Homo sapiens: one gene and its partners. The gene in region 2 interacts genetically with the main gene of each other region. Each region holds a gene or a part of one and is shown on either strand. Other genes may lie near its edges. The genes, in order: PSMD1, CTNNBL1, DCTN2, SDHC, DNTTIP2, POLD1 and KCTD10.

Region 1 (3,500 bases), on a different chromosome or scaffold from region 2:
ATCAGCATGATTCATAATAGCCATAAAACGGAAACAACTTAAATGTCTTATCAACTGATGAATGAATAATGTGAGATAATAATGGAATATTATTTGACCATAAAAAGGAAAGACTTACTGATATATGCTACAGTGTGTGTGAACCTTGAAAACATTATTTTAAGTAAAAGAAGCCAGACGTAAAAGACTGCATATGGTCTGGTTCCCTTTATGTGAAACATTCAGAAAAGGCAAATCTATAGAGACGAGTTAGATTGGTGGCTACCAAGGACAGGGGAAGGGGAGAATGGAGAGTGGCTGCTACTGGGCCCACAGTTTCTTTAGGTTGATGCAGATATTTTTGAATTAGATAGCAGAAGTATTAATAGCTGCACAAGTTTGTGAATGTACTAAATTGTACGCTTTGAGAGAATGAATTTTATGTTAATATATCTCATTTTAAAAAAGAAAACACTGCCTCTGTGTATGTGCAGTGACTCACTCCCCTACCCTCAGTGGCAAGGTCATGGGACCCTTCCTCAGACACTGCATTTGAAAGAGGCAGCTGTAGTTTTGGAAACAAGTAACATTCCTACCCTGCTTCCTGTCCACCATGAGGCAAGAGGAAGTGTTTCATTGCCTATATCTACAGTTGTAATTAGCCTCCCCAGAGAACAGAAAATCGTATATCTTATGCATAGAGGGTGTGAACTTTCCCACCAACATGTAAAGCATTAACAAACCTAGACCATGTATAGCTATAAACAGCCCTTTCCATGTGTTGATTTGGATTATTAGTTTTGGGATTTTTTTTTGTGTGTGTGTTACTGTTGTTTTTGTATGATGAGGCCTTCCTTTGATTAAGTTGGATTATTTCATTCCAGTTAAGCATGAAATAGCATAACCTGGATCCACATTTTCCAAAAAATAGAAAGTCCTCATGTGAACGTGGATATTTTCTTCTGTTTGGTAGGAGATTCATCTCCATTTGGTCCATTAGGTTCAAGTAAACTTTTAGGCTATGGAGGATTAGGACAGTGGCCCTATGCTCCATTCTGGGAGTATTGGCAGTAAGGGCAGGGTCCATTCATAAAATGGATCCTCTTCAAGGAAAGCAAACTTTTTAAGGGAAGGGGTTGTAGAAAAATGTATAGATATGTGTGTGTCAGGAGAAGGGAAATAGTTCGGAGTTCACGAAGCACACCAGTTTTATAGCATGGCAGGGCAGAGTTCTGATGAGTAAAAATTGGATTAGGTTGAACTGCAGAGATGCTTATACATACGTGAATCATTTAACTAATGTACTTGTGCTTCTTTTCCTTCCCAGTAATGTGCTTTGGTAGAAATATGCTTTTTCCAGATGTGCCCTGCCACTGTTGACTGATTTAATTACATAGAGCAGCTTTCCATTTCCTTTGACACAGGCAAGCAAATAGAATAAGATTAGCACACTAGAGAGGGGTGAATAGTTTAGTGTTTGAATTTACCTTCTGTAATATGTTTGGGAGAGGGCTTAATAGAATTGCTGCTACAGTCTACTTCCCTTTTGTTTCCCATGTATTTTTTCATCGGCTTGCATCACGTGGATTTATAGATTAAAGTGAAAAACCCGGGATATCTGTGTTATTCTCTCCATCATTCTGAAATTGCTGGAGAAAAAATTGGCTTTTAATTTATACACTCTCGTGTTCAAAATGATTATCATCTCACAAATCATACAGTGTGCATTAGACTGCTTCTCAAACTTCAGTGTGCATCAGATTGACTGGGATCTTGTTAGAATGCAGATTCTGCAGATCTAGGGTGGGGCCAGCTTTTCTGCATTTTTAACAAGCTCCAGATGATAATGATGCTTCTGGCCCAGGACCATATCTTGAGTAGGAAGGAATTAGGATACTATATTTGGACAGTAAACATTCTTCCTGCAGTGAGACTGAGGCTGGTAGTCAAGGCCATGGCTGGGAAATAACTATTCTTAAATTGGGATGCATCATCCAAGTAGAACAGCATCACATGTTATACCATCTAGAGCTACTGGGTTAAGTTTGCAAATACTTCGTATAGATCACAGTTATCTTTATCCCAGTAAAGTTCTACTCCAGTTTTTCACTTCCAAATCATTTAAGTAGTTTTAAAGTACCATTTAACAAGTATTTACTCTAGATTGTGGAGCACGCTTGAAATATGAGTGTACGCTTCTGCACGCCCCTGTGTTTCCAGCTCTCTATTGGAGGCATCATCATTCTGAAGGATACCAGTGAAGACATTGAGGAGCTGGTGGAACCTGTGGCAGCACATGGCCCAAAAATCGAGGAGGAGGAACAAGAGCCAGAACCCCCAGAACCATTTGAGTATATTGATGATTAAGGGCCAGAGGTGCGTGTGCAACAAAATTATGAAGGGAAACTTCTTTGTCAATACTTCACAAATGTTTTTTGCAAGGACATCATCTCACGTTTTTCCTTCCTTTTGTGTTTAATCCTTATTTACCTAAACAGTATTAAAACTTCCCCGTTTCAACCTTTTTCTGCATATATAACCACAAATTCCTTTTTCTTTCCTCTTTGACTCGTACTCTACTCACGTTATTCAAAGTGGCTGGTCTGCAAACTATTTTTATAGGTCCATAAGGAGATAGGAAGCTTACTCCAGAATCTGTCTGCTCAACGCTTCTTTCATCAAGAAAGTCTTCCCCAAAACATCAGCTGAACTGCAGTTTGCTTAGTGATAGAGCTGATTTACATTCTGATGTAAGCTTCTTGTTGTGGATCAGTTATAGTTGTGGACTGGCACTGGCCCATAGGTGACACTTTTGAGTAGCACAAATATAGGCTTCTCACTGATTTTTCTCTCTCCCCATCTCCTTCGACAGTATTTTTGGCATAGAAGCCTTAACATTCATTCATTCTATGATGGTGCTATTGAATATCTACTGTGTATAAGACATAGTGCTTATAGGGACTTTGAGGTCAGTTAGACTAACCACAAGGCTGTGTCCATTGACAAAGATCATTTACTATATCAGTGTCTTAACAGTGTTGAAAGGGGTCTTTAGATGGGAAAGTTTGGAGTAATCTAATTTCATGAAATTGTCGTTCTTCATTTCCCCATTTTCTTTTGAGTGTTCATCACATATTTGAAGACATTGTGAGACATAATCAAGGTTTCCTAATTCCACCCAAGCACAAACACGTTTTCAGACAATTTTTTTTTTTTTTTTTTTTTTTGAGACGGAGTTTCGCTCTTGTTGCTCTTGGCTGGAGTGCAATGGCGCAAACTTGGCTCACCGCAACCTCCGCCTCCTGGGTTCAAGCGATTCTCCTGCCTCAGCCTTTCGAGTAGCTGGGATTACAGGCATGCGCCACCACACCCGGCTGATTTTGTATTTTTAGTAGTGACAGGGTTTCTCCATGTTGGTCAGGCCGGTCTCAAGTTCTGGACCTCAGCTGATCCGCGAACCTCGGCCTCCCAAAGTGCTGGGATTACAGGTGTGAGCCACCACGCCCGGCCAATTCATTCTA
Region 2 (3,500 bases):
AATTACAATATGGGCAGGAGGTGGTGGAAAAAGTCTTCAAGAGGGAACCAGTTATGTTCCCAATATGGAAATGTACTTTTTTGATGCCTTCAGGCTTAGACATCTCATCAAGAAGTGTGCCCAGCAGTGCCTTGGCTGAGAAGTTTCTGCTGGCATAGGCGCATATATGAACTCCAGGGCACTCTCATTAAATCTGATTCCACAGATGTCTGGAAAAAGTTCTTACCTCTGAAGTTTTCCAATAAAGAATTCACATTTAGTATGGCTTGTGACATGAGATGTATTCTTTTTGAGGCAAATTTGAGGCTAAGGGACCCTTGGTTTTGGTGATATTGCAGACACCCACTCCTCTTGTCCTCTATCAGTAATATCTTAGCATATCTCTTGGATTGCAGGAGCTTACAGAAATATCTAAACTTGCTCCTTTCCCCCTCCTAGTTTTTTCTTTTGAAATAAAATTTTAAATGATAATAAAGTGATAGAAATAGTATTAAAGAAAATGCTTGAGAAGAGGAAAACTATTATCCTAATTCAATCAATATTTTTCTGTTCCCACAGTCCTTACGTATTTTGTGAGGCTAGAACCATTGCATATATACTACTTTATGTTCTATGTTTTTAATTTAACATTGCCAGGAATATTTTCTGTGTTTCTACATCTCCTTCATGTTATTTTTAATATTTGCATACTTTTTGCTTGAGTGATAGACCATTTTCCCTAAATTGTTCTTCTACAATTGGATGTTTAGGTGGTTTTCCGGTTTTTGTTCTTGGAGATAACATTGTAGTGAAGTGCTTTGTTCATGTAGCATTTTTTTCCTTCCCATCTGTCATTAGTATTTACCATGTGCCATCTCCTGTGCCAAGTATTGCATGCACTAAAATTATTATGACATGGACCATGGACATTAAAGAAGAATTCATAATGTAAGGAGCAAGACAGACATTTAGAAAACTAACTCTATGAATAAAAGTATTATGGGAGCACAATGGAAGGAACGGTTGGATATGGAAAGGGGATATATCGATGGGGATGGATTTGGTTTGGTCATTGAAGAAAAGGGAGATGACACTGGAATCCTAGCCTTGATGAATGGGTAGGGATTCTGTGGGTGGTAAAGGACACTGGGGACAGTGATTCTTGACTGGCATTATTAAGAGCAAAAGCAGGGTAGTGAAATGTTCAAAGCATAGGGTAAATGCAGCAATGGGTAAAAAGCAGGGAGTGGTCGGAGACGATGGGGGTCATCTCAGCTGCAGATGTGTGGCGTAATACATCGTACGCTCATCTCAGCTGCAGATGTGTGGCGTAATACATCGTACGCTCATCTCAGCTGCAGATGTGTGGCGTAATACATCGTACGCTCATCTCAGCTGCAGATGTGTGGCGTAATACATTGTACGCTCATCTCAGCTGCAGATGTGTGGCGTAATACATCGTACGCACGTGGAATGAATCATTGGTTGTTTTACAGTGCTAACAGTATACTGTTTGTGTGTGTTCCAATTTTATTACAACCTTTTTTTAAAAAATAGAATCAGGGCCTCCCTGTGTTGTCCAGGCTGGTCTTGAACTCTTGGACTTGAGCTATCCTCCTGCCTCAGTCTCCTAAAGTGCTGGGATTACAAGCGTGAGCCACTGTGGCTGGCCCCAGTTTTATTACAATCTTGATAGTACTAGTTCATAATTTATTTTTTCCACTAATCTACTAGGTATATTAAATACTAGTTCAAGGTTGCTTTATTAAGCATTATTTTCTTCTTGTGTGAGTTTATCATTTGTATTATTATGTGCCTCATAAGGTAGTCATTGTAATTTCGTAATTGAGTTTTTCTGTTATATGGGTTTTTTGGTTGTTGTTGTTGTGTGTATAAGAAACATTACTGAAAATCTGAAAACTGGTGCTCAGATACATCCTTCATTCTGTGAAGGCCTCATCCCAGTAGCCCTAAGAATATGATTCTAATCATGAAGTCATTTTATATAGGCTCTTTTTGCATGTCAGTTTAGTACATTTTGAAGTTACTTTTTGTTGGAAGTGTGACTCTAACAGATAAGGAGGACCAGAACAGATACAGAGCTATTCTCATTGATAACATTTCAGACTGTTTTTCTCTTTCATCTCATGAGTGATTTTTTTCCTTAAGTTCACTTCCTCCCTCTGCGTTCTTCTCATCATCTCTTTCTTCTGGCCCATTCTTCTCACACTTACAAAACACATTCTATTTATATGCCTCCTTACACACACTTTTTACTAAACTGTAGACTTAGAGGCAAGGACCAGCACCTAGCAGAGCATCTCAACTGTAGTTAATGTCTAATACATGGTTGTTTAATGATTGAATGAACTGGGACATGCCTTTGTATATGCCCTGGTTGTTTCCCCTTCTGGAAAGCTCTTGTTCTACTATCTTGTTAGCTTGTTGGCCTACATCTCTGTGCTTTCATGTCAGACTTCAAGAAAATTGGGTTCACAACTGATACTTCAGTTGCTTAATCATTTTCCTCTTCTTTATTATCATATCTTGCCACTCTTGCTACAAAACCTATATTCTTTGCTTTTTAACTTTTTATTTTGAATTTTAAACTTAGAAAAAATTATAAAAATAGTAGAGTTTCCGTATATTCCTCATCCAGCTTCCCCTAAAGCTAACATCTCATATAACCATTATGTAAAGATCAAAACTAGGGAATTAACATTCGTGTAATACTAGTAACTAAACTGCACACTTAATTCACATGCCATCAGAGATGTCTGGTCATTTTTCTGTTCCAGGTTTCTATCCAGGATCCCACATAATGTTTGTCATATTTCCTTAGTCTTCCGTTATCTTTCATGTTGAAGAGTACTGGTCAGCTATTTTGTAGAATGTCCAAAACCTACATTCTTGAACTTGTCAGTGCTGTCTTTTGCCAAAGATTTTCTTGGGCCTCATTATTCTGGAATCTTCACTAGAATTTGACTCTGTAACTCTCTTCTTCATCATTTTAGAAGAACTCATTCATTCTTTTCCTTTCAGCATCTTTTTGCAGACAGCTCTTAGTTCACCGTCCCTGATTAATGTTTCGTGTGTGTACTGAACATTCTGGCCAGATGTTCAGATATCACATAATTCTCTGCTTCCTCCCCTGCCTATCCCCATGGCCAGCTTTGCATTTCAGTCAGGGGTGTTGATGTTCAGCAGACTTGAAAGGAGCCTTGGAACTATTTCTCAAAGATGAAACGGCTCAAAGATGAAAGACAAGGTTCTTTACTTTTTTTTTTTTTTTTGAGACAGAGTTTTGCTCTTGTTGCCCAGTGCAATGGCATGATCTCGGCTCACTGCAACCTCTGCCTCCTGGGTTCAAGCGACTCTCCTGCCTCAGCCTCCTGAGTCGCCGGGATTACAGGCATGTGCCACCACGCCTGGCTAATTTTGTATTTTTAGTAGAAACGGGGTTTCTCCGTGTTGGTCAGGTTGGTCTCGAACTCCTGACCTCAGGTGATCCACCTGTCTCG
Region 3 (3,500 bases), on a different chromosome or scaffold from region 2:
GTCATCATGGTTTTGAAGTACCCTGGCTGCAGTGTTGGCGTACAGCCTGAATAGGCTCAGAGAGTAACAGTGGCCACTTTCCCTGTCTGATTTAGAACCTCAGATCTTGCCCTCTGAGGCACAGCCACTTAGCCAAACAGCCCTGGGGGGTCTGGGAGTCCCTTAGTGAAAGAGACTGGGAGTCACGTACTAGGTAAGCTGGCACCCGGGGCCAGGGCACTTGAAATCTTCCAATCAAGGTGACTAGTACTACTCCAGGTTATGCAGGAATCATGCCTAAAATCTCATCAACCTTCAACCCACCCATAGGACAGACCTGGAGGTGGTATATACTATCTGCAAACTAATATACCACTTTTCCTTTTATTTGATTTTCTGTCCTCCCTATTCTGCCCAATCCGCATGGTTTGAAATTGAGCTTATGGCCCATTGTCTTCTTTCTCTCCTTGAGTTTCTCCCAAGCTGGTTTTAGCTTGGTGGGACAAATCAGAGAAAGGTATAGTGTGTGTACTTCTCCTTTGTGTTTGCATGTTTGCACTTATGGGTGCTTACACCCACTCTATGCAGAGACATCCCAGCCTCGACCACAGGATCTGGAGCCACCTCTACCCTGAGCTGAAAGAGGAATTTTTTTTTTTTTTTTGAGACAGTCTCACTCTGTCACCCAGGCTGGAGTGCAGTGGCATGATCTCAGCTCACTGCAACCTCCGCCTGCCGGGTTCAACTGCAACCTCCACCTCCCGGGTTCAAATGATTCTCCTGCCTCAGCCTCCCGAGTAGCTGGGATTACAGGCGTCCACCACCATGCCTGGCTAATTTTGTATTTTTAGTAGAGATGGGGTTTCACCATGGTGGCCAGGCTGGTCTCGAACTCCTGACCTCAAGTGATCCACCCACCTCGCCCTCCCAAAGTGCTGGGATTACAGATGTGAGACACCGTGCCTGGTGGAAAGAGGAATCTTGGCTGGGACCCTAGCATCGTCTAGGGAACAGAGAGGTTGTGATTAAGAGGTATCTGGATGAAATCTTGGTGAAAGGAAGCACTTGTTTTTAATCCCACCATGGTTTTTCATATGCATACAACCATCCTCAACCATCTGCCCATCAGCAGAGCTCCTAGAAAGGCAGGACATACCACTGGATATCCCCTTCTGGCAGTTCTAAACCAGCCTTGCCCGGAAGTGGGAGCCTTATCTATGTGGCCCAGACTCAAATAAGGCCTCTTGGAAATACTCTCACCCTTCCCCTTTGTTTACCCTCCAACCCCTGTGAATCTTGTGAACAGAGGGTTGAAGAAACATGTTCTGCACATGTGCTAGTACCTGTGAATCTTGATGTCCCCTGGACCCTCTGTGTAAGTACATCATGGCAGAATTGCTCTAGATCCTTCGGAGCTGCAGGGTGAGTTACCAGCCACTCAAGGTGGAGGCAAACATGCCAGGCTGCACAAGGGACCAGGAGCAGCTCTGCCTCTTCCCTTGCAGGAGGAAATGAGAACGGGGCTATACTTAGGTACTTCATCATTCCTTTAACTCACCATCTGTACCTGACATATTTTGTTTTGTCTCACCTAAAGTCATATCAGACTTCCTACCTGATCACTCTCATTGTGACTGATTCTGCCATCCAAATGTCTAATTTTTCACAGCTAGAGAAACTAAGAGATAGGAAGACAAGGGCCATGAACTAAGAAGGGGAACTCCTCTCCTGAGAATTATTGACCCTCTATCAGCTACAAGTCTAAGAATTTCTAACTTCTGCTTCATCTTCTACCATTTCTAATAGCTTCCCCACCACCTCAGCCTTCTCTCCCCAGTTTCTTATTCCATGCCACTGGCTGGTAACATCTAACTCCTAGTTTTCAGATGATCCTAAACTGCTGCTGTTAATGGCAAAGCTTCATGACATCCTCACCACCAGAGGGAAAAGGGTCTCATGCTCTTCTTTCTCTTGGGGTATATGGTGACCCCAGCTGAAATTTCTTGGCCCCTAAATTTCGCTAGGCTCCCCTGGGGCCCTGTGGTGCAGTGTGTTGGAAGACTGTCATGTAGTGCATGTGACAATTTGCTAATAACAATTTTGTCTTTTTTTTCCCTCCCTCATCCCCATTCCCCCACTCCCTTTCCTTTTAACTCTTTTGATTTTCTCACCTCTGGGGAAACCACAAGGAGCTGGTAAGAAGCCTGACCTTTCATCTGCTTTTTAACGGGGTGTGCTATGATGAGCAGTTGTTTCTCTGTCCTTTAGACTCTACTAAATCTTTCATTCATCTATTCAGTCCCACACCCAGCCTTTTCCTATCTCACAAGTCACTGTAATTATACTGCCCCCAACTCATGCCCCAGATCTTCAAGACACTGCTGGAGTAGGTGCTACTGGAGGACTAGAGTGTGCTCCCGGGCCACAGCCTTGGAGAGGCTCCAGAGGATGCCAGCGCCAGGTAGCCCAACTGGCCCAGGACACTCTCCCACAGCAGGAATGAAAATGCTCTCTGTCCCTGTGACTGTCCAGAACCTCTGAGACTCACCGTCTATGTGTTGACCCTCTTCTACTCCCCGCTTTCCCTACTTAGGAACGTAAATAAGAAAGTAGGTTCCATCTGCATAGTGCCCGCCCATAATAAGGGCTTAACAAATGGTAGCTATGATTAATTTTTTTCCTGGGTCTGTAGGTTATGCCTCCCATTCCTCTTTTTTAAGAGGATTAAACAAAAGAGGATGGGTGGGATTGGCCTGGATTGGGGCTTTCACAGGGAGAAGTGGCATATTCCTGAGTATGAACTTCAGAGAAGATGGTTGTCTATCCTTAGCCTGAGCCCTTCCCAGTTGATAAGAGGCCAGAGATCACACAGCTATTAGATGGGTGGGTGTTCTGGCCGTAACATTTCAGAACAGGTTAAAGAGATAATCATTTGGGACTCAAATGTCTCTCCCCCCGGGCACTTGCATATGGGACATTGAGTCCTTTTGTTTTCCCTTGATCTATAGCTCTTACCCCTCTGCCCAGTAATTCCCTGAGGAAGAGGTAAAGATCAAAGTTGATACTTTGTCCTTTCCTTCCTTCTTCCCTTATTTTTAAAGCTGTCACCCACACTGATTCCTGCTCTAATAGCAGAGCAGAGATGAAGGAAGGAGCTTCCTTCTATCTGCTTTTCTTTCTCAATGATGTCCCACCATGTCCCCCTCACACCCTCTCCCCACATACCTACACACAGGCAGAGATTCTCAGTCCTGGCTGTAGGTTAGAATCACCTGGATATCTGGCCCTACCCCAGAATAATTCATTAGAATCTCTAGAAGTGGGCCCAGGCCTTTTTTTTTTTTTTTTTTTCTTTTCTCTCTCTCTCTTTTTCTTTTTTTGAGACAGGGTCTCACTCTGTTGCCCAGGCTGGAGTGCAGTGGCATGATCTCTGCTCACTGCATCCTCCACCTGCCAGGCTCAAGTGACCCTTCCACCTCAGCCTCCTGAGTAGCTGGGACCACAGGCACGTGCCACAATAC
Region 4 (2,163 bases), on a different chromosome or scaffold from region 2:
TGGGGCAGTGTTCAGTTTGATTTAAAATGACTTTTTACTTCCCTGAGGGGGAGGCAGTAGAGAGGGAGGACATTTCCATTAATGACTTCCTATTCCACAGAACAAAGCTCTGTAAAGAAAATCAGCTGATCAGCTTCCTCTGTTCATATTTTGGCTCAGACAGAGACTTGCCCTATATTTGTCTTTGTCTCAATATGGGGGTAAGAGAGGGGAGGTTTTATAAAATTGCAGAACTTAGAGCTTTTCTGCCCTGGTTCTTGCCTGTGATGGTAATCTTTTTGTTGAGGGAAGTGAAGAACCTAAGGGTCCTTAAGTCTGCTTTTATTTTTTCTTCTAGCAAGTACTGGCTGTGAGTGTGGGACAGGATTTTGTGTTTTCTGTGACAGTCTGCAGTTTTTGGCCTCTGAACTTGATAGTTGACTTGCCAGAAGATCTAATGGGGGAGTGAGGAGTGAAAGAGTAGGATGTTATAGGGTCTGTGGCATTCTAGGGAATATCCCTGCCTACTACTGCTACCCAGTAGGACTCACTCTCTATAAAACATTGTCCTTATTTAAGCAAAACAACTCTTTGTGGAATCTGCTTGACTCCTAATCTCCTAGTTAGAAGCAATTTGAGGGTTGAGGTGGAGGCATCTTCTCATCTTGATTTTTTTTTTTTTTTCTGGGCTTCCATCTTTTCTCTGAACTGACTCCTAATTTAGGCAGTTTTACATTCAGACTGTGGGTGTATGTGTGTATGTGTGTGTTAAGGCGCCATGTATGTGGGAAGTGTGGAAAATGAAGACTGCTTTTGCCCCATGGGCTCATTTAGTGACTTATAATATAATATTAATATGTTAATATCCCTAAGACACAAGAGAGTCAAAATTAGTGTTTTGTTAAATGTGGGGCTGGGGGCATGGTAGCTCATGTCTGTAACCCTAGCACTTTGGGAGGCCAAGGCAGGTGAATTGCTTGAGCTCAGGAGTTCAAAACTAGCCTGGGCAACGTGGCAAAACTTCATCTCTACCAAAAATACAAAAAATTAGCTGGGCATGGTGATGGGTGCCTGTAGTCCCAGCTACTTGGGAGGCTGAGGCAGGAGGATTGCTTGAACCTGGGAGGTCAAGGCCTCAGTGAGCTGAGATTGTGCCACTGCACTCCAGCCTAGGTGACAAAGTGAGACCCTGTCTCAAAAAATTAAAAAAAAAAAAGTGGGGGTGGGTGGTGGGGTAGGGGCTGGGTGAGATGGCTCACACCTGTAATCTCAGCACTTTGGGAGGCTGAGGCGGGAGGATTGCTTGAGCCCAGGAGTTCAATACTAGCCTGGGCAAGACATAACAAGAGTCTATCTCTATTTTTTAGTATTAAAAAGAAAAGTGGGTTTTAACTCAATTGGTAGAAAACCAATTTAGTGGCATGCTACCAACAAAAAAAGAAATTTAAATAGAATAGAAAATATAGGCTGGGGCTGGGCGTGGTGGCTCATGCCTGTAATCCCAGCACTTTGGGAGGCTGAGGAGGGTGTATCACTTGAGGTCAAGAGTTTGAGACCATCCTGGCCAACATGGTGAAACCCCATCTCTACTAAAAATACAAAAATTAGCTTGGCATGGTGGCATGCGCCTGTAGTCCCAGCCACTGGCAGGGCTGAGGCAAGAGAATCGCTTGAACCTGGGAGGCTGACGTTGCTGTGAGCCAAGATGGCGCCACTGGAGTGGCTGGGTGCAGAAGTTCACGCCCGTAATGCCAGCTTTTAGGGAAGCAGAGGCAGGAGGATAGCTTGAGTCCAGGAGTTCAAGACCTGCCTGAACAATATAATGAGACCCCGTTCTCCACAAAAAGGAGAAAATATATGTTTTTTAATGAAGTTTATTTATATATAAAATATATAAATATATACTTGTATATATATGGCACCACTTAGTAATGGTAAATATTGTTTTATCAACTTTTGCTATATTATATATACATATCTATTGGGTTCCAGTTTTAAAGGTATTTCTTAGTGGAGTCACAGTCAAAACAAAATTGAGAAATAGTGTTCTAGATCTCAGAGTATCCTTTAGAATACTAGTCCTCTGATAAATAGAGTTTCCCTCTATAAAAAGATTCTGAGATTGACTGTATCTAGGAAATCAGGCATATTATATCTCTCTTTTGGAGATTCACAGTGTGCATT
Region 5 (3,500 bases), on a different chromosome or scaffold from region 2:
AACTCCTACAAGTTATTTAATTTTGTTTCATTCATACAACAAGTATTTAGTTAGTGCCTACCATGTGCCAGGGTGCTCCATATTACAGTAACATTACTAGAATACCATCCTCAACTTTCCTTCAAGCTCTCTGGATAACTAGTCGAAATGGCAGATAGAAGTAATCTATATATATATATATTTTTTTAAAAAACCTCTACTTATAGATGCACTATTGTGGCTGCAAAGATGTGAAAATCTATACATAATGTGTTTATGGTACTATATTTTACAGCCCTTAGAAATCTGTAATTATTTTCTTTGGACTCATATATAGACCAACAGATACAGTTTAATTGTGCAGTTATGTTGTATAAGCTGAAAATATATAGCCAAACATATCTAAGCATTTTAATTAAGTCACTGTACTTACTCTGCGTTTTTTCTGAAGTTGATACTTTGATTCACTATATGGTGGAACACAGTGGTTTTTTTCAAAATCAGGTGTAATGACGGCTTTCTGCAGAAGCTATAAAAACATAAAATTGGTTTTAAAATAATGTCAGAATGTTATATAAGTTTTTCAACAGTTTAAACTTCTGTAAGTTTTAAAATTTTTAGTCAGCCTGGCAAAGTGGCTCACACCTATAATCCTAGTGCTTTGAGGAGGCCAAGGGAGGAGGATCACTTGAGGCCAGGAGTTTTAGACCACCTTGGTCAACATAGCAAGACCCTGACTGTAAAAAAAAAAAAAAAAAGAAAAGAAATTAGTTGGGCATGGTGGCACACACCTGTAGTCCCAGCTACTCAGGACGCTAAGGCAGAAGGATCACTTGAGGCCAGGAGCTTGAGGCTGCAGCAAGCTATGACTGTGCCACTCACTCCAGCCTGGGTGACAGAGTGAGACCCTGTCTCCCCCCAAACCCAGCTCCCTCCCAAAAAAAAAAAGAAAAAAGAAAAAAAAGGCCAGGCACGATGGCTCATGCCTATAATCCCAACTCTTTAGGAGGCCAAGGCAGGACAATCACTTGAGGCCAGGAGTTCAAGACTAGCCTGGGTAACATAAGAAAACGCCATTTCTCCAAAATAAATAAATAAATTTGTGCAGTCAAATCTGTTTATCTTTTCCTAAATGATTTCTGTACTTTTGTTACTTGACTAGGATGATTATATTCTCCTAAAACTCTGTGTGACTAAAGGAACCTCAGGTTAATTAGTATTTTTCTCAGTACAAGAACCAAGTAAGACTGCTCTGTAGCCCTCAAAATAGTTTACAGGAATATAGTACAAGCATTAATTTGGGACTGACATTTGAAATGATCAACTCAGAAATTAACAGTCAGGCACACAATTCAGGTTCAGGCCTAGATGTTTCTGTGTGGTATAGGTAGCCGTCTAGGCTTTCCTATCACTCATAAAAGGGGGCATGATATTTACTTAACAAATGATTAAGAGTTTGCTGTGAGTCAAGTACTGTAGTACATTCAAGGACAGTGGTTCTCAACTGGGAGCATCTGGCAATGTCTGGAGACATTTTTGGTGGTGGTGAGGATAAGGAAGAATGCTACTGACATCTAGTGGGCAAAAGATAGGGATGCTGTTAAACATCCTACTATGCACGGAACATCTCACAACAAAATTATGCAGCCCAAAACATCAGTAGTGCTGAGACTGAAAAACCCTGTTTTAGGAATATAAAGAAAAGATGGTAAGTTAATATATCACATGATCAACAATGAATCAGATCTATGCTAGATGTTATGGAAACAGAGGGGTTGTGAGAAGGACTGGAGGTAAAATATTCCCCAAGGGCAACGATCAATTATTTTGCACTTGCTTGGGGAAAAGCAGGGTAAGTTCAGGCAACTACAGTAGTCTTCAGTGGCAAGAATAGAGCAGATGACAGCTGGGTGGGGTAGAGAGGTACTTTGAAGGATTCAAGAGAATACTGTCACATCTGTGTGTGTGGTGTGTTTTTTGGGGCAGGGAGGAGAGATGTGGTCTAGCTATGTTGCCCAGGTTGGTCTCAAACTCCTGGGCTTAAACAATTCTCCTGCCTCAGCCTCCCAAAGTGCTGGGATTATAGATGTGAGCTACCTTGCCCAGCCGGATTTGTGTTTTTAGACAGAGAAATCTAGAAGTGTGGAGGATGGCTTGAAGAACAAGATGAAAACAAGATCAATAAGGAAGCCACTGGAGTAGTCCAGATGAGAAGCAAAGGCCTGCACTAGCTGGTGACAGTCGCTTGAAAAGGAGGAAGCAGAGAAATATCTTCCCCTAGAGGCTTGGTGACTGACTACAAAAGGAAAAGAGAGTTTGGTTTCATTAGCCAGAAAAAAGAATACAAGAAGAGGATTCCTGGTTCAGGCAGGGAAAGGGGAATTAGTGACGTCAAGTACCTGAGGACATCTAAATGAACAAATAGGTACTTGGATTTAAAGGTCTGAAAGTGACAGTGAGAAGCATCAAGGCTAGAAAATATAGATTTAGGAGAAAACAGTGCAAGGTGTTGGCTAAAGCTAAGGGTTTGGGTAAAGTTACCTTAACAGTAATTCCTTCTGAAATTATATGTAAAATGTCTATATGCACATGTGCATTTTTTTCCGGGTGGAAGAGGCAGGCAGGCATTCACAGCTTTCAGATTCTCAACAGTCTACACTAGTTAAGAACTTAAGAACTAAAAGTATAGCAAGAAAAGGGAAAAAAACAAAACCCCTGGGATCATAATTGGTGGGTGTAAGATGAGGAACACTGACCCTGTATTGATTTATTTTTAAAGCATTATCATTCATAGATAGGATTTTATTGTAAAAAGAAATGACTGTTTTAGAGAGAAGGAAAAAACTAACACATTAGGCCAATGTGGTTTCACTGTAGGAAAATTAAGTCTTTTACCAAGGACTAATTTCTAAAAGTGATTGGTTAGTTCTGTGAAAACCTAACAGCACAATTAACTTACCTCATTTTTCTTTTTCTCCTTGATCTGTGTTAGGGTTCTCTTGTTAGACTGTAGTTTATCTGCATTAAAATTAATATACAAACCACCCAACTGCTTGATACTCAGACCAGGGTCTATGCTGCTGCTTGTCAACTTCAGACTGAAAAAGAAATCATCACTTAAAGATCAAGTAATTAAATCAAAATGGAAACATATAAGATGGCATTTTAAAAAATCACTTATTCTTCTCTTCCCTTGTATTGTCCACAATAAAGAAAAAAAAGCATCTTATTTTTATGAGGAATTCCTGAAAAAAAACTCTAAATAAATATATTTTTCATCATTTTATTTTATTTTTTGAGACAGGGTCTCACTGTTGGCCCAGGATGGAGTGCAGTAGTGACCACTGCAGCCTTGAACTCTTGGGACTCAAGTGATCCTCCTACCTCAACCTCCCTGGGTGGCTGGGACTACAGGTGCACACCCAACACCTGGCTCCATAATGTCAAATGAATGAGCCATTCCATGAAGAACCCAAGGCAGTGATTTTCTCATTCCCCAGGCTAACATTTCATATTTTTAT
Region 6 (3,500 bases), on a different chromosome or scaffold from region 2:
TTTTTTTGAGACGGAGTTTTGCTCTGTTGCCCAGGCTGGAGCGCACTGGCGCAATCTCGGCTCACTGCAACCTCTGCCTCCTGGGTTCAAGCGATTCTCCTGCCTCAGCCTCCCGAGTAGCTGGGATTAGAGGCACCTGCCACCACTCCTGGCTAATGTTTTGTATTTTTAATAGAGACAGGGTTTCACCATGTTGGCCAGGCTGGTCTTGAACTCCTGACCTCGTGATCCGCCCGCCTCGGCCTCCTAAAGTGCTGGGGTTACAGGCGTGAGCCACCGCGCCCAGCCAATTCATTGCATTTTTATTATTCCACCTCTTGCTCCCATAAGCTTGAGAGACAGAAATAAGGAAAGAGGTCAAGAGACAGAAACAGAACAGTGACAGAGGGAAGCGGCTGAGAGAGAAAAGACAGAGACACAGGATTGGTAAGAGGCAGCCCCAGGGGAGGGCCAAGCTGTGCTCTCTTGGCCTGGCCTCTGCTTCAGGGCTAGAGCCTGATGTCCACACAGCCACCCCTTTCCACCAAGGAGGCTGGGGAGGCAGCCGGGGACTGTGAAAGGCAGAGGGGAGTTGGGAGCATGCAGTGAGCGATTCACTTTGTGCAAAGAAAGGTCTGGCTCTTGCCTGGCTCCTGGTAGTCTAAGCCCCTAGAATATCCCGCCTGATAACAGTGTCTCTGTTCCAGCCTGGGCAACATGGCGAGACCCTATCTCTACAAAAAATAACAAAAATAGGTGGCACGTGCCCGCAGTCCCAGCCACTTGGGAGGCTAACGTGGGAGGCTCACCTGAGTCCCGGAGGTTGAGGCTGCAGTGAGCCACGATTGTGCCACTGCGCTCCAGCCTGGGTGAGAGAGTGAGACTCTGTCTCAAAAAAAAAAAAAAAAAAGGTGTTTGTGTACCTGGGACTTTGAACCACACCAGGTAGTTGACACTAACATGGTTTATGGTAGGGCCCTGGGCCATGCAGTATCAGTTTGACCTCTGGGGGTTGCTGAGGGGCCTGGGGATGATGGAGTCACTAAGGCCAGTCACAGGGTGCTCCATGCCTATAGGACTGACACCCAAGAAAAACCCTGGACCCCAAAGCTTGGGTGAGAGCCTCTGGTTGGCAATGCTGCATGTGTGCAGGCACGCATCAAAACTGGGAGGAAGGAGGGCCAGCCTGGCAACTCTACTGGGAGAGCACAACTGGAAGACACGCCTGGTCCCTCCTATACCCTGCCCTGTGCACCTCTTTCTTTTGCTGAGTTTAATCTGTGTCCTTTTGCTGTATTAAATCATAACCATGAGAACCAGCTTTTCTGCTCTCTGAGTACTTCTAGTGAATCACTGAACCTAAGTGGTCTTTGGGACCCCCAGAACTGCGGGTGGGTGGGTGTGTGCAAAGGCCCCACCCACTGAGAATTCATCCAAGCCTTCCACCCAGAGCCCTGTGAAAAGTGGCGCAGTGCCCAGCCAGAGAGGGAGCTCCCCGTGGCTAGAGGTAACCAAGCAGAGCAGCACAACTACTGGCCTGGAATGGGCCAAGACTCAAGTCCCAGGGGAGAAGGCTGGACAGGAAGACCCTTCCGAGGCCCTCATATGCCAGGAGCTGGGGCACTGACCCCAGCTTGGCAATCTCGGAAACTCAGGCCCTCTGTGGTTTCAAAGAATCTGTTTTTCTGTTCAAGCAGCAGAGCTGCCGTGGGTAGGCAGACCGGGACGCTGCCGTGGGGACGGTGAATGGCTTCCCTCCCCACGTCCCTTGGCCTCTGTGTGAGCGTCGCCTATTGAGAGGGGTGAGTCCCGCCCAGCCCCATCACTCCCCGACAGTCCGCACCTCCTGCTTTATCCGGCTGCAAAGCTCGTAGCGCCACTTGTGTCCTAAACACGTTTACACAGACCTGTCAGTGTCCCCACTGGGCTGCAAGATGACAGGGACAGGAGCTCTCATCCATTTTGTTCCCCTCTGTATCCCCAGGGCACAGAGTGAGCCCTGACCACAGTGTGTGCTCAGTAGGCATTTGCTGAGTGAAGGAATGGACCAATTGCTCAAGCCACATTGGCATCCTCTCTCTAGAAGGCCAGTGAGTTGGGGTGCCCAGTCCTCTGGATACAGGTCCCCCACATGGAGCCCTGGTCTCCTACACAGGGGGCCCACCTGCCCCCAGTTGCCTTCCAGGGGCCCGAGTGCCCACCTGTGAGATCTCCAGGCACGGCAACTTGCCCACCTGGGCGCCAGTGAAGCCGTATACGGAGTTGGCGCTCACCTTCAGCGCCAGCTGCCGTCCATCCAGGACCTGGCGCCGGAGGGGGTCTGTCTCCTTGGCCAGCTCGGCCTTGGCCCTGCGAGGGAACACGGGGAAAGCACACTCAGGCGGCACCTGGGCATTGGTCAGGGCTCCTTTCTGGAAGTGAGTGCCATGTACGGTTGGGCGTACTGTGCACTGCACAGAAGCTTCTGGCCAAGGGGGCAAAAGGAAGCTGCCAGGAGGGGATGCCTTGTGCTAATTCACGCACAGCTGAGGGCAGGGTGGCTGGGCAGCCCTGGGGTGTCCCAGTGAGGGACAGGGATTGCCCAGAGGCCCCAACAGGTCTGAGCTCCAAGCAGGCGATCTCCAGGGCTCACCTCTTCCGGGCACTGAGCAGGTTCTCCAGGATCTGGGGCAGCAGCCCCTTCCGCACTGAGGTCTTCACAAACTCGTCCCCGGTGGGGGTCCTGATGAACTGATCCTCAGTCAGGCTGGGTTGGAAGATGTTGGGGTGACTGCCGGCCACCCTCCTGCTCCAGCCCACCTCTGCCCTACGGTCCTGGCCTTGGCCATGAGCACACGCAGGCCCCTCAAGCACCCCTCCACTCCCTACTATCTCTGGGCCTGTGCCTATGCCCCCCACCAGACTGAGCCCCCCAAGGGAAGGCCCAGATGGGCCTCGGGGGACACATGCTGAATTGGGCACTATACCCCAGTTTCTGTGCAGTCCCGGGCCGAAGGAGCGTGGTGTAACACAGGTTGTGGGCCATCATGATGGACGGGTACAGCGAGGAGAAGTCCAGGGTGGCGATGGGGACGTCGTAGTACCTGGGAGGGGAGCAGCCGCGGCCGGGAGTCAGGGCTAGGAGTTCCCATGCCGCCCCCGCCCTGTCTTGTGGCCTCACCCTTTAAAAAAAAAAAATCATTCATTGGCTGGGAGCAGTGCTCGCTCCTGCAATCCCAGCACATTGGGAGGCTGAGGCAGGAGGATCGCTTGAACTCAGGAGTTTCAGATCAGCCTGGGCAACATGGCAAAACCCTATCTCTACAAAAAAATTTTAAAAATTAGCCAGGTGTGGTGGTGCACGCCTGTGGTCCCAGCTACTCAGGGGCCTGAGGCAGGAGGATTGCTTGAGCCTAGGAGGTGGAGTAAGCCAAGATCATGCCACCGCACTCCACCCTGGGTGACAGAGTGAGACCCTGTGTCAAAAAAAGAAAAAGAAAAAGAAAAATAATATATATAATTAATCTACTATTTTATTTTAT
Region 7 (3,500 bases), on a different chromosome or scaffold from region 2:
ACCAATTTTGCTGTCTCCTGCTTCACCTCCCCAGCTTCATTGGTAATGAAATCAAACCTTTGAAACAAGTCAAAAAGCAGGATCCTGGCCAGGCACGGTGGTTCATGCCTGTAATCTCAGCACTTTGGGAGGCCGAGGCAGATGGATCACTTGAGGTCGGGAGTTCGAGACCAGCCTGACCAATGTGGAGAAATCCCGTCTGTACTAAAAATACAAAATTAGCCAGTCGCGGTGGCTCACACCTGTAATCCGAGCACTTTGGGATGCCGAGGCAGAAGGATCACCTGAGGTCAGGAGTTTGAGACCAGCCTGACCAACATGGTGAAACCCCATCTCTACTAACAATATAAAATTAGCCAGGTGTGGTGGTGCATGCCTGTAATCCCAGCTACTCGGGAGGGTGAGGCAGGAGAATTGCTTGAACCTGGGAGGCAGACGTTGCGGTGAGCTGAGATCGTGCCGTTGTACTGTAGCCTGGGCAATAAGAGCAAAACTCAGTCTCAAAAAAAAAAAAAAAAGCAGGATTCCAGTAGCAACAGTGGGGAGAGTCCTCCCTAGAGAGGTTTGCTATGGTGGGGGTCTCTGGTCCACTGCCTCGTGTCCTAAGTTCACTGTAACTTGGGCTCAAGGACACGAATGCTGCCAAAACTTTTCCCCCAAGGGCCTTGCCTACTATTAGGTTGACTGACCTTTGGAGAGGGTGAGCTCTGAAAAGGTTTAGAGCTTTTGTTGCCTAATCTGTAGTCTCATTCTAGATCAGGATGGCTCCTGCCTTTATCTCTTAGTCATGCCGTCTGCCATTAGAGCTGGAAACAGTTTCCAAAGAGAAGATAGTTTGAGACTTCGGGAGCATTCTCAAATCATCATAATTTGAGTGTTTGGAGTGTTTACTCAGAGCTAGGGAGCCCTGTGAGGGAGGTGAGGCTTTTGGCCCTGGACACAGCTACTAAGTGGTAGGGCTGGGGCCTTATGCACAGGTCTAACTCCAAACCCTTAGCCACACTTTACCTCGCGACTATTTTCAGGGCTTTTTGTACTTTTTAAAGAAGGGAGGTGAGGCTGGCCTTTCTCAGCTTATGTATCATAGCTCTCAATCTACTAGGTGTGATGGTCTCTGGGCCAGCCACCACTTGCCCATGTCCTTCACTGGCCCCGTCACTGACTCAACTCCAGCTTGAGAGTGACTGACCCTGATGGGGCTGTGGCATCCAAATCCACAAAATGGAAATAACTATAGCTGTCTTCCAGCATTGTTTGAATTTGTAAAAGGCATGTGGTAGAAATGCAGTGGTCAAGGGACACCGAGGGGCTTTCTGGAGGCATGGAAATGTTCCAAGACAGCTTGATTGGAGTGGGGGCTACACAGGTGCAAGTATTGACCAAAACACATCAAACTGTACACTTAAAGTATACTTCATTATGTGCAAATTATCTTTAAAAAGGTATTGGAAAGCCAAAAAAGGTACAGTCATGCGCACATAATGACAGTTTGGTTAGTGACAGACTGCGTATATAACAGTCCCTTAAGATTATAATGGAACTGAAAAATTCCTGTAGCCCAGTGATAGTGTAGCTGTCATTTCAGTGGTAGCACAACATATTACGTGTTCGTGGTGATGCTGGTGTAAACAGAACTACTTTGCTGCCAGTTGTATAAGTCTAGCACACACAATTATGTACAGTACATAATAGTCGATAATAGTAATGAACTTGATAGATATATCACTGGTTAATGTATTTACTATTAATGGTTATTTTAGAATATACTCCTACCTGCCTTTTTTTTTTTAAGTGAAAACTGTAAAACAGCCTCAGGCAGGTGCTTCTGGAGGTATCCCAGAAGAAGGGATTCTTACGGGAGATGACAGTTCCATGCGTGTTACTGTCCCTGAAGACCTTCTAGTGGGACAGGATGTGGAGGACAGTGATACTGATAATCCTGACCCTGTGTAGGCTAGGCTAATGTGTGTGTATTTTGTAGTTTTGGATAAAAAAGTTTAAAAAGTAAAAAAAGAGAAAAAAGCTTATAGAATAAGGATATAAAGAAAGAAAATATTTTTGTACAGCTGTGCAATATGTGTTTTAAGCTATGTTATTACAAAAGGGTCCAAAAGTTAAAAAAAAATTAAAAAGTTTTTAAAGTAAAAAGTTACAGTAAGCAAAGGTTAATTTATTATGGAAAGAAAAAATATTTTAAATAAATGTAGTGTGGCCTCCCTGTGCAGTGTTGATAAAGCTACAGTAGTGTACAGTAATGTCCTAGACCTTCACATTTACTCACCACTCGCTCACCCAGAGCAATTTCCAGGCCTACACACTCCATTCATGGTAAGTGTCCTATACAAGTATGCCATTAGAAAAAAATCCTTCATATCACATATTTACTGTGCTTTGACTTTACATGAAGTATACTTTATGTACTTTTTTGTCTGTTTCATGATAGGCACCTTCCAAAATGCTAGATCGTTTCCCATAACAAGCATTTATTATATAAAATTAGATCTGAAAGGGGTGCTTAAAAAGTATTTGCATTTTGGGGCAAATTTCCTCAACACACACCCTCACCCATGACCGTAAGCCTTTTCTCCCCCCCTTCGAGGTCTTCACAGTTTTTGGAAACTTTTATTTCCATAAGCTACTCCTGTCATCCCATGGACAAAGGATTTTTCTGAGGGAGGTGGCTGGTCATAACTGTTAGTGTGAGGTCTCTGGGGACTGATTTCAGAGGACAGCTAGAAAGGAGGGGTAACTGCTTCTTCTGGACCTCTTTTGTGTTTGGCATCGGGCAGCAAAGACCCCAGGTGAGCTAAGCCTGAGCTTTTGAAAACATATTTTCTTGTGACTTTTCTTGATGAAAAAGGAACTGTTTCTTGAGAAAACATTTCTTTCCAGGAGGCCGTTCTTTCTCTGTTTCACTCTGCAGGGCCCTGACATGGCAGGTGATATCCAGGCCACTGTTGGGTGCCATGGAGTTGGGGAGAGTTGGCCAGAAGAGTTGGATAACCTTGAATTGAATATTGTCCATGACTGTCGCGTTGCTTCTGCTGTTGCAAGCTGCCTCCCTTTACTCCCAGTCCCATTTACAAAAATAACGTTTGTGTTTTACCAGTTATAGTTGTAGTACCCATTCATTATAGAAAATCTGGAAAAGCTAGACAATTCTTTTTCAGTTTCAGGGAATAGTTCAAACAAGTTATGTGCTGTCAGTGCCCTGCAGCCAAAAAGCACGAGGAGCATACCTGTAGTCAAGCAAAGTTGGGTTTATTTCCTTGTTGCATTGGGGTGGGGAAGAACTGTGGGACATCTCAGAGAAGGGCTGTGGGCTTGTGTTGGGTGATTTGAGAGACAGTTCAGAGAAGTGGGGCTTTGCTCTGTGTTGGATGCTGCTGGGAAGCAGGGCTAATTCTGTGATTGGGTCTCAGTGATTCCTGACTTGAAAGCAGGAAGAATGGAAGGAGGCTAAACCTCTCATTGGTAAAGCAGCAGCTATAACTCCTATT

What was found.
Region 1: changes in CTNNBL1 (region 2) and PSMD1 together harm fitness less than expected from each alone (positive genetic interaction), as found in Homo sapiens cells (one large-scale study listed by BioGRID).
Region 3: changes in CTNNBL1 (region 2) and DCTN2 together harm fitness less than expected from each alone (positive genetic interaction), as found in Homo sapiens cells (one large-scale study listed by BioGRID).
Region 4: changes in CTNNBL1 (region 2) and SDHC together harm fitness more than expected from each alone (negative genetic interaction), as found in Homo sapiens cells (one large-scale study listed by BioGRID).
Region 5: changes in CTNNBL1 (region 2) and DNTTIP2 together harm fitness less than expected from each alone (positive genetic interaction), as found in Homo sapiens cells (one large-scale study listed by BioGRID).
Region 6: changes in CTNNBL1 (region 2) and POLD1 together harm fitness less than expected from each alone (positive genetic interaction), as found in Homo sapiens cells (one large-scale study listed by BioGRID).
Region 7: changes in CTNNBL1 (region 2) and KCTD10 together harm fitness more than expected from each alone (negative genetic interaction), as found in Homo sapiens cells (one large-scale study listed by BioGRID).

What each region holds. Positions count from the first base shown.
Region 1 is NC_000002.12:231,168,367-231,171,866, forward strand, and holds part of PSMD1 (26S proteasome non-ATPase regulatory subunit 1), read left to right. Parts: intron 1-2,199; coding exon 2,200-2,346; 3' UTR 2,347-2,355; intron 2,356-3,500. UniProt on the Homo sapiens protein: Component of the 26S proteasome, a multiprotein complex involved in the ATP-dependent degradation of ubiquitinated proteins.
Region 2 is NC_000020.11:37,700,530-37,704,029, forward strand, and holds part of CTNNBL1 (beta-catenin-like protein 1), read left to right. Parts: intron 1-3,500. UniProt on the Homo sapiens protein: Component of the PRP19-CDC5L complex that forms an integral part of the spliceosome and is required for activating pre-mRNA splicing.
Region 3 is NC_000012.12:57,537,193-57,540,692, reverse strand, and holds part of DCTN2 (dynactin subunit 2), read left to right. Parts: intron 1-2,168; coding exon of another isoform or gene 2,169-2,174; intron 2,175-2,345; exon of another isoform or gene 2,346-2,440; intron 2,441-3,500. UniProt on the Homo sapiens protein: Part of the dynactin complex that activates the molecular motor dynein for ultra-processive transport along microtubules. In the dynactin soulder domain, binds the ACTR1A filament and acts as a molecular ruler to determine the length.
Region 4 is NC_000001.11:161,359,381-161,361,543, forward strand, and holds part of SDHC (succinate dehydrogenase cytochrome b560 subunit, mitochondrial isoform 1 precursor), read left to right. Parts: intron 1-2,163. UniProt on the Homo sapiens protein: Membrane-anchoring subunit of succinate dehydrogenase (SDH) that is involved in complex II of the mitochondrial electron transport chain and is responsible for transferring electrons from succinate to ubiquinone (coenzyme Q).
Region 5 is NC_000001.11:93,872,707-93,876,206, forward strand, and holds part of DNTTIP2 (deoxynucleotidyltransferase terminal-interacting protein 2), read right to left. Parts: intron 3,078-3,500; coding exon 2,939-3,077; intron 509-2,938; coding exon 413-508; intron 1-412. UniProt on the Homo sapiens protein: Regulates the transcriptional activity of DNTT and ESR1. May function as a chromatin remodeling protein. Part of the small subunit (SSU) processome, first precursor of the small eukaryotic ribosomal subunit.
Region 6 is NC_000019.10:50,408,347-50,411,846, reverse strand, and holds part of POLD1 (DNA polymerase delta catalytic subunit), read right to left. Parts: intron 3,141-3,500; coding exon of another isoform or gene 3,063-3,140; coding exon 2,946-3,062; intron 2,726-2,945; coding exon 2,612-2,725; intron 2,329-2,611; coding exon 2,181-2,328; intron 1,907-2,180; exon of another isoform or gene 1,823-1,906; intron 1-1,822. UniProt on the Homo sapiens protein: As the catalytic component of the trimeric (Pol-delta3 complex) and tetrameric DNA polymerase delta complexes (Pol-delta4 complex), plays a crucial role in high fidelity genome replication, including in lagging strand synthesis, and repair.
Region 7 is NC_000012.12:109,470,801-109,474,300, reverse strand, and holds part of KCTD10 (BTB/POZ domain-containing adapter for CUL3-mediated RhoA degradation protein 3), read left to right. Parts: intron 1-3,500. UniProt on the Homo sapiens protein: Substrate-specific adapter of a BCR (BTB-CUL3-RBX1) E3 ubiquitin-protein ligase complex. The BCR(BACURD3) E3 ubiquitin ligase complex mediates the ubiquitination of target proteins, leading to their degradation by the proteasome.